Regions from separate parts of the Homo sapiens genome. Here all the other regions are reported to be linked to region 2. The links are microRNA targets in miRTarBase. Many come from high-throughput screens and were not tested one by one. Region 2 holds a microRNA gene; each other region holds the end of a gene's coding sequence.

Region 1 (3,123 bases), not on the chromosome of region 2:
CCCCCATTCTGTCTCCATCTCTTGCATCTGCTTTCCTTTGCAGGTTGACCTCATTTTCCTAATCCCATTGCCCCCATGAAGCTGGAACCATGGCCAGAGGTAGCCTTGGGAAGAGAAAATCTCATCTCTAACCTTTGAGTGGAAAATGCTAAGGAATGGTTCTGAATGGCTCAGCTGGACCCCATGCCTCTCCTTGGTCTAATCATGGGAGCCAAAGGGATGGGTCACTTACAGCCAGCTTGGGGCATTTGCCCCGTTGCTGTGGCCAATGCCCTTAACAGAAGGGCAGAAAAGATCATGGGGTCAGCAAAGAGAGCAGCCTCCTCAAAGCTCAGAGGAGTGTAGGCACAGGTGCCACAGAGCAGCACGAGACCATCCTTGTGCTCTACAACCTAGTACAATTGAGTTGGGGAAGGTGTTGATTGATACTCATATGAAGACATTACGAAGTAAACCCTGAATGTGTCTGGTGGAATTCAATGGAAGGAGAGAGAACATCAGAGATTGATGTGTTCAGAGACGTGAAGCCACGGGGCAGGAGGAAGCCCTGGGCCAGTGGTGAGAAATCGGGCTGGATAGCAGCTATACAGGGGGGCCTGGAAGCCACAGGGGGAAGAAGAGTAGATTCTACACCACTATAGGTTCCTTATACATGAGGAGAGACAGCCAGGTAAGGAGTATGCTGGGGAGAGGGGGAAGAGCCTCAGCAGCAAGTGAAGGTGGCACCACTCCCTCCATCACCGCCCATGGGTTCCCAGTAGCCTGGAGAAGGCCATGAATTTCAGCGTTCCCTGTGTGACTCACCAATAGGATGCGGGCCTCACCATTTTGCCTGTCTCTGCCTGGGTTTCACTCACTTTATACCAGTGGGGCTCTCAAATTGCGGTGTGCATAAGACTTACAGAGGGAACATGGGTAAAACACTGGCACTGGGGACCGTCCCAGGGTGGGCGGGATAGTTCAGTGGGTCTAGAGAGGACCTGACAGTCTGCATTTTATTTTTATTATTATTATTTTTTTGAGATGGAGTTACGCTCTTGTTGCCCAGGCTGGAGTCAATGGCGCCATCTCGGCTCACCGCAACCTCCGCCTCCTGGGTTCAAGCCTTGGCCACCCAAGTAGCTGGGATTACAGGTATGCGCCACTACGCCCAGCTAATTATGTATTTTTAGTAGAGACCAGGTTTCTCCATGTTGATCAGGCTGGTCTCGAACCCCCGATCTCAGTTGATCTGCCCGCCTCAGCCTCCCAAAGTGCTGGGATTACAAGCATGAGCCACCGCGCCAGCCAGTCTGCATTTTTCTTTTTTTTTTTTTTTTGAGACGGAGTCTTGCTCTGTCACCCAGGCTGGAGTGCAGTGGCACAATCTCAGCTCACTGCAAGCTCTGCCTCCCAGGTTCAGGTCATTCTCCTGCCTCAGCCTCCCGAGTAGCTGCCCGCCACCACGGCCGGCTAATTTTTTGTATTTTTAGTAGAGACAGGGTTTCACCGTGTTAGCCAGGATGGTCTCAACAGTCTGCATTTTTAATAGGCTGCCCCAGGTGATTCTGATATAGCTGGTGCAACTTGCTTTGCTGAGTGGTGCAACAGACTTTGAGAAAAGTTGCACAGGGTAATGTCAGAGAGGAAGGAGGAAGAGATTTGTGGCTGTTGCTATTTGTTAGAAACTGACTTCTGATTGTCTGCAGTAGACCCTGCAAAGCTCTGAGCTGGGTAGGAATAGGGGCCACAGGAGCAGCATGAAGCACAAGCTGTAGCACCTACCAGCCCCTGGGTTGGGGACGACATGGGATGATGCTCATATGAACAAACTGTGAAGTCATCTCTCTCTGGGTGGGGTGGAATTCCATAGAAGGAGACAGTACAGAGAGCATATCCCCAGTCTAACTTGGGGATGTGGATTCCCAATGAGCCGAGCAGTCATTTTAATTTAATGAGCAAATGAAAACAGTGGGCAAAAGAAAAAATAAATGTTTCCAGGACTGCGGATGGGTGGGAAAGAAATGACTGGAAAGGGGAGAGTCAAAAATCAGGGAAACAGATGAAGTGAGGGGTAGGAAAGAAAAAGAGAGCAAGAGGAAGATTCTTTTTGAAAGGCCACTTTATTGATGGAGATAAAACTGAATGGAGTTCCCCACAGCCCTCCCCTCACTCATGTTAGTGGCTTCACTGGGCATCTGAGACCAGCGTGGCCTGTCACCCACATAGACTAGGCTGCTTAGCCCACCCAGCCTATCACACTGCCCGCTCCACGTTGGGCAGCCACATAAAAACACGTCACAGCTCAAGAAGATCCGTGGATGCACCTCTGAATCCCCCCCAATGGTTTCTGTGCATTTTTTTAATATTGTACAAAATATGTTAACTAGGAAAAATTAGCTGTACTGTGACAAGTGCGGGACGTCCTATTAGGATTACCGTCCCCCAGGCATTACTTCTTATTGCAGTAAGACCTCTAAAAGGTGGAGCTGTACAAACCAAAAAAAATCTAAACGATTTTAAGAAGAGCAGCAACTCAATACTGCTTTAGTTCATTTAAATTTTCTTTCCCAAAAATACACTCCTAAATATACAAACTATACAATCTTATTATTTTAATGCTGGTTTTTTTTGTTTCTGTTTTTGTGTGTGTGTGTGTTTTGTTTTTGTTCTGTTTTTAATAACAACAGTAGGACCCAAACTAAAAAGTCGGTTCATCTTCAAACCAACAAGAGCACTAGAGGACTTGTGACTCAGTACCTTCATATAACACCACATAAATAACTTTAGCCACAGTCAATGTTCACAGCCTGGTCAGTGGAACAAAGGAAATACTTTTCTGGCGATTAGACGTCATCTGCAGAGAGAGCTGGGATATTCATCCGAGGCCGGGTGAAAAATGCCATCTTCTCCCTATAAGAGAGGCCATCCCTTTAGAGCAGGGGTTTTCAACCTCGCTCTACAGAGATTCTGGGCAGGATAATTCTTTGTCGTGGGAGCTGTCCTATACATTCGCTGCAGAATGTTTAGCAACGTCCTTGGCCTCTTACCCTCTAGATGCTGGCTGTATCCTTGACCTCCAGTTATGACAACCCAAAACGTAAGCTCATTGCCAAATGTTCCAGGGGGAAGGGGAGAAATCAC
Region 2 (3,123 bases):
AAGTGCTGGGTTTACAGGTGTGAGCCACCATTCCTGGACCGCATTATTGATTTTTTAAAATTTTTGGATTTTGTTCAATTAGTGATTGAGTCTCACTGTGTTGCCCAGATGGGCTTGTCTCCCAGGCTGGAGTGCAGTGGTGAGATCGTGACTCACAGTAGCCTCAACCTCCCTCACCCCAGCGTCCCGTGTAGTTGGGATGGCAGGCATACAGGACCATGCTTAGCTAATTTTTTTTTTTTTTTGTAGGGTTGGGGTCTCCCACCATTGTCTAGGCTGGTCATCAACACCTGGGCACAAACATCCTCTCACCCCGGCCTCTGAGCCACTGCACCCAGTAGGTTTTAGGTTCATTTTATTTTTTATTTAGGTGTCCACAAAGGCAGCTTTTTCCTTTTCTTTATTTTTTAAAGAGACAGGGTCTCACTCTGTTGCCCAGGGTGGAGTGCAGTGGCCAGATCTTGGCTCTCTGCAACCTCTGCCTTCCAGACTCAAGTGATCCACCTTCGTCTCCAGAGTAGCTGGGACTATAGGTGTGCACAAACACACCCAGCTGAGTTTTAAATCTTTTGTAGAGAAGGGGGCCTCAGTATGTTTCCCAGGCTGGTTTTGAAGTCCTGTGCTCAAGCAATCCTTCTGCCTTGGCTTCCCAAACTGCTAGGATTACAGGTGAGCCACCACACCGGGCCTGTCCACGTAATTTAAAAGGTGCTGGACGTGTGCGGTGGCTCACGTCTGTAATCCCAGCACTTTGGGAGGCTGAGGTGGGCGGATCACGAGGTCAGGAGTTCGAGACCAGCCTGGCCAATATGGTGAAACCCTGTCTCTACTAAAAATACAAAAATTAGCCAGGTGTGGTGGCAGGCGCCTGTAATCCCAGCTTCTCAGGAGGCTGAGGCAGGAGAATTGCTTGAACCCAGGAGGCGGAGGCTGCAGTGAGCTGATGATCGCTCCATGGCACTCCAGCCTGGGCAACAGAGCAAGACTAAGAAAAAAAAAGAAAGAAAAAGAAAAAGAAAACAAAGTAATGTAAAAGGTGTTATTCAGGCTGGGGACCCCCAAAGTGCTGGGATTACAGGCATGAGCCCCAGGGCAGGCCTAGGATTTGCATTACAAGGCTCTGCATTGTTCCTGAGAACTGGAGAGAGTGCTCAATCTACCTTTCGCTATTGAGCAACATTCAGAAGTCAGTTTTAAATCTCTTATCTTCTGCATAGAGGATGTGCCTGCAGTTTCCAGGTACTGGACAATACAGGGAGGGTACTTCTCAGTCTGTGGCACTCAGCCTTGAGGGCACTTTCTGGTGCCAGAATGAAAGTGCTGTCATAGCTGAGGTCCAATGACTGAGGCGAGCACCGAAGAAACACCATGGGGGGGAGGGGGGGCGGGGGGCTCCAGGAGCCACTGCAGGTAAAAGCTAAACCGTGGTGCTTGTTCTGCGCCATAAACTGGACTTCAGCCCAGCTTTAAGGAAATGACCACGGTCTCTGGGTTGTGAGGCTGGGTTCCGTAGCAGCTATAATGCTTGGATTCAGGGATAGCCTGGGTCACACCATTGCCAGAGAAGAGGCAACCAATCCAGACCCCAAAAGCGGGTTCTTGGATCTCTTGCTGGAAAGAATTTCGAGGCAAGTCACAACACAGCGAAAGAAGCAAGCTGAGGCCTGGGCTCAATCCTCCTGCTTCGTCCTCCCAAAGTGCTGGGATTACACGCATGATCCCCTGTGCCCTGCCAATATTTGGTAATTATAACTGGTGGTCAGCTTACAATGTGGCTATTTCCAGACCATAAGTACCAACTCTATAGGTGCCTTGTGAGTGAGTGCCTTGCTACTTCAAGCAGTTACTTTCGTGTGTTATTAAACCAGAGGCCTGCTAAGCCTCTGTGCCTAGTAAAGATTACAATTTGGAATGTCAGCCCCCAGCTGTCCTGTGTGATTGGCAGGTTAGGTCCTTGTTGAACCAGAAGCAACTGGCCAGTCGTACAGATGCAACTTTCGGACCAGTAGAAAATTTCTATGTCAACCTGGAGACATAGGGATTGTACCTTTCTGATACCCTATTAGTAAATAAATAGTATTTATTTATAAATTATGTATAATAGTATTTATCTGAATATATCCCAAGCAGCCCAAGTGTGTTCCAGACATAACATTTTTATTTACATTTAAATATCACTAAGATTAGAGATACACATCTAACTCAGGTTTTCAACTAGTCTTACCATTGAAAGAACTATTGTGGCAGGACGCAGTGGCGCACGCCTATTATCCTAGCACTTTGGGAGGCCGAGGAGGGCGGATCACAAGGCCAGGAGTTCGAGACCAGCCTGGCCAGCATGGTGAAACCCCATCTCTACTAAAAATACAAAAAAATTAGCTGGGCATGATGGCACAGGCTTGCAGTCCCAGCTACTCGGTAGGCTGAGGCAGGAGAACTGCTTGAACCCGGCAGACGGAGGTTGCAGTGAGCCGAGATCGCGCCACCGAACTCCAGTCTGGGCAACAGAGCAAGACGCTTGTCTTAAAAAAGAGAGAGAAAGAACTACTTGTTCTCTGTAAGCCATGCTGGTTTAGCCAAAATGCTGCAGTTGTGTATGGCCAGGGACGTTGAGGCTGCAGTGAGCCGACGGCTGTGTTGCCGCTCTGCAGTCTGGGGGACAGAGCAAGAACCTGTCTCAAAAAAACAAGAAGTTAGTGAGACAGACATGCCGTTCTGTTACTTTTCCCCTTGCTGGTTCAAAGCTAGGTAGTTGCCAATTAAATGTAATCTTGTAGAGCAAAAATGTTTTTCATTTTTTGAGACAGGATCTCACTCTATTGCCCAGCCTGGAGTGCAGTTGTGGGAACTCACAGCAACCTCCACCTCCTGGGTTTAGGCAGTTCTTCTGCATCAGTCTCCCGAGTAGCTGAGACTACACCGGTGCCCAGAGGGCAGTGGCCAGATCTTGGCTCTCTGCAACCTCTGCCTTCCAGATTCAAGTGAGCCACCTCCGCCTCCTGAGTAGCTGGGACTATAAGTACGTACCACCATACCCAGTTAATTTTTGCATTTTTTGTAGATAAGGGGGCTAAGTATGTTTCCCAGGCTGGTTTCGAAGTCCTGTGCTCAAGCAATCCTTCT
Region 3 (3,123 bases), not on the chromosome of region 2:
AGGCGCCATTCAGTCACTCATTAGCCTGTTCAGCTCATTCATTCATTCCATAGGTGCTGAGCCGCACCTCCAAGGCTGCTCCCAGGGGTCAGGACAGTGGTTGGGAAGGAGGAGGCAGGTGGGCGGTAGCCAGTGGGACACAGAAGGTGATGGGGCCACAGAGATAGGTCTGTGTGCAGGGCCAGGGCACCTTCGTGCCCATGCAGGGAGGTGGGCAGGCCCAGCAGGTGAGGGCCACACCGCTGGAGAGGACGGAAGTGCCAAGCAGCCGCTTCCCTGTTGTTCTGCAGCTCCCTGGTCAGCACCAATGAACACCTGCTGCAGGAGCTGAGCCAGGTGCGGGCGCAGCACAGAGCCGAGGTGGAGCAGATGCACTGGAGCTACCAGGAGCTCAAGAAGACCATGGCCCTGTTTCCACACAGCAGCGCCAGCCATGGAGGCTGCCAGGCCTGCTGACTCCTGCCGAGAAGCTGGGCCACCCCTTAAGCTTCCTGGTAAAGTTACATTGTCTGCACCTTTGTACTTCTTTATTGAGTGTACTGGCTGGCAAGAGTTCTCTCTTCTGTTGGTAATTATTTAGGATTTTTGGAATGTATTCAGGACCTGTAGCTTGGTTTTCTAAAGCACCTCGTAAAATGATATGATTACTCCAAGCCCTCTGCATGTTTTCAGACAGAACACATTGACATATTTTGAGACAAACTGACTATTAATCTTGTATCCAGTATCCTGAGATGAAGTAAATGCAGTGTTCTACTGCCTGATGTGAAAGAGAGCTATGTATGATAATTAAAGAAAATAATTTTCTGTGTAACAAGCAATCTTTATTTAATAAACAAATACATTGTTCTGAAAAGTTAACTTTTTCAGTGGCTGTATACAAATTATAACTGAGTTTGTCATTGAGTTTTTTATAGAACAAGCTGTGCACCATGATAGGTGAGTGGGAATAATTAAGTTCAAAGACTTAACACAAGTGACACTTATAGATGTGGGGGAAAAAACCTTAAAAATATTGTCTTATGATATTAACATATCACAGCGGAAACATCTACCCAAGCCCTGGCTCGCTCTCTTGTTTGCAGTGTAGTTCTGAAAATTATGTCATAATAGGACACAAAACTAGATTTTTAGTTTGGAAACTTCATATCTTATGTCATACTTGCTGTGATTGGTAAGACAAGGTCATTTTTTAAATGACGTTCAACTGATTTGGGAAGAATGAGCAGGCCTAAGAAGAAAATGCTCTGTGCTAGCTCTGTGTGTGTGTGTGCCCTTGCTGTGTGTGTGTGTGCCCTTGCTGTGTGTGTGTGCTGTGTGTGCGCTAGTGTGCGCTTGCTGTGTGTGTGTGCTAGCTGTGTGTGTGTGCTGTGTGTGCGCCTAGTGTGTGTGTGCTAGCTGTGTGTGTGCTAGCTGTGTGTGTGTGCTGTGTGTGCTAGCTGTGTGCGCTTGCTGTGTGTGCTCTGTGCGCGTGCACTTGCTCTGTGTACTAGCTGTGTGTGCATGCTAGCTGTGTGTGCGCTTGCTGTGTGTGTGCTAGCTGTGTGTGCATGCTTGCTGTGTGTGTGTGCTTGTGCGCTTGCTGTGTGTGTGTGCAGTTGCTGTGTGCTAGCTGTGTGTACGCTTGTGTGTGCGCTGTGTGTGCGCGCACGCACCCTGTGTGTGTGCTGTGTGTGCACGCGTTGTGTATGTGCACTTGCTATGTGTGTGCTTGTGTGCTAGCTGTGTGTGTCTGCTAGCTGTGTGTGTGTGTGCTTCTGTGTGTGTGTGTGTGTGCGTGTGGATTGTATCCCTGGGGAAATCAGAGGTGGGACTCTGCTGTCTCTTCCCCGAAGAGGACTTGCTAGGCTTCAGGCTGCCCTCTTGTGTCACCTCTCTGTCCAGTTGTGGTCCTAACAGGAAAATGTGTCATACCAAATTTATTTTCTGTAGGGTTGGGATGGGGTTAATTTGTCATCACGTAATTTATGTATGTAAGAGTATTAGAAGATGTTAATATTAATCCACTTTAAGCTTATAGATGCTTACCTCGTTTGGGTTTCATTGAGCTTCTTGGACCTGTGAGTTCATATTTTTCACCAGATTTGGCAAAGTTGCAGCCACTACTCATATTTCTTGTCTGACCCCGTCTCTCACTTCTTCCTCCCTGTCCCCATCTGGGACTCTAGTTAGCTTTCTGTTAGACTGTGATACTGTCTCTCAGGTCACTAAACGTGATGCTTTTTCATCCTTGTTCTCTCATCCTTTCCTTTAGGTGGTTTTATTGTCCTGTTGCGAGGCTTACTAATCTTTTCTTCCACTTGCCTAATTTGATGTTAAGCTTGTATAGTGAATTTTTTATATCAGAAATTAGGTATATTTTTGTTCTAAAATTCCATTTGAGGCTAGGCGGGGTGGCTCACACCGTAATCCCAGCACTTTGGGAGGCTGAGGCAGGAGGATCACTTGAGGCCAGGAGTTTGAGACCAGCCTGGCCAACATGGCGAAACTCCATCTCTGCTAAAAATGAAAATTAGCTGGGCATGGTGGTGGGCACCTGTAGTCCCAGCTTCTTGGGGGGCTGAGGCAGGAGAATCGTTTGAACCTGGGAGGCGGAGGTTGCAGTGAGCCAAGATTGCAGCACTGCACTCCAGCCTAGACGACAGAGCAAGACTCCGTCTCAAAAAAAAAACAAAAAAACTCCATTTGATTTTTTTCATTAGTTTTATATCCCATTATGTTCACGTTTCCATTAACTGCTTAACCATGTTTTTAACAGGTTTACTAGAAATTCCCAACTGTTCCAAAGTGGTGGTACCCGCAGGCCCGACTGCTAGTTGTGTATGACCACGTCTGCCGGTCCATGTTTTCAGCACCCATTGCCTGAAGTGTTAGCACCTTCACTCCGGTGGGTGTGGGGTAGTGGAGGGAGTGGGGTGGTGGAGGGCGCGGGGTGGCGGAGGGCGCGGGGTGGTGGAACGTGTGGGGTAGACCTCTTTCTGGTTTCATTGGCTTCTCCTTGTTCAGCACCTTCTCATGTGTCTGCGGCTCATTGGGATTTCCTGTTTGTAAAGTACCTATTCAAGTATTTTCCCTACTTTTCTATTGGATGGTCTGTCTCATTTATTTGCAGGTGTTATTTAT

The links. The annotated mature microRNA hsa-miR-512-3p reads AAGUGCUGUCAUAGCUGAGGUC and lies in region 2 at 1,316-1,337, shown strand. An mRNA with a match to its seed (bases 2 to 7 or 8) in the 3' UTR can be bound and repressed. Matches are read on the target gene's strand: a 7mer-m8 pairs with bases 2 to 8, a 7mer-A1 pairs with bases 2 to 7 and ends in A, and an 8mer does both.
Region 1: miRTarBase lists WWC1 as a target of hsa-miR-512-3p. Seed matches in the 3' UTR shown: 7mer-m8 at 1,253-1,259.
Region 3: miRTarBase lists CEP72 as a target of hsa-miR-512-3p. The part of its 3' UTR that is shown has no 7-base or 8-base seed match.

What each region holds. Positions count from the first base shown.
Region 1 is chr5:168,468,720-168,471,842 of GRCh38, reverse strand. WWC1 (WW and C2 domain containing 1) reads right to left here. Exons shown (of 23, transcript NM_015238.3): 23 at 1-2,892. The coding sequence ends at 2,826. Among named protein-coding and RNA genes, the nearest start is that of RARS1, 16 kb to the left of the region's middle.
Region 2 is chr19:53,665,414-53,668,536 of GRCh38, forward strand. MIR512-1 (microRNA 512-1) reads left to right here and starts at 1,266; the gene lies at 1,266-1,349. All of the region lies in intron 2 of LOC107985342 (a long non-coding RNA gene), which reads left to right. RefSeq lists enhancers at 1-189, 190-1,077, 1,078-1,966, 2,855-3,123.
Region 3 is chr5:652,698-655,820 of GRCh38, forward strand. It overlaps CEP72 (centrosomal protein 72), which reads left to right. Exons shown (of 12, transcript NM_018140.4): 12 at 291-856. The coding sequence ends at 456. Among named protein-coding and RNA genes, the nearest start is that of TPPP, 39 kb to the right of the region's middle.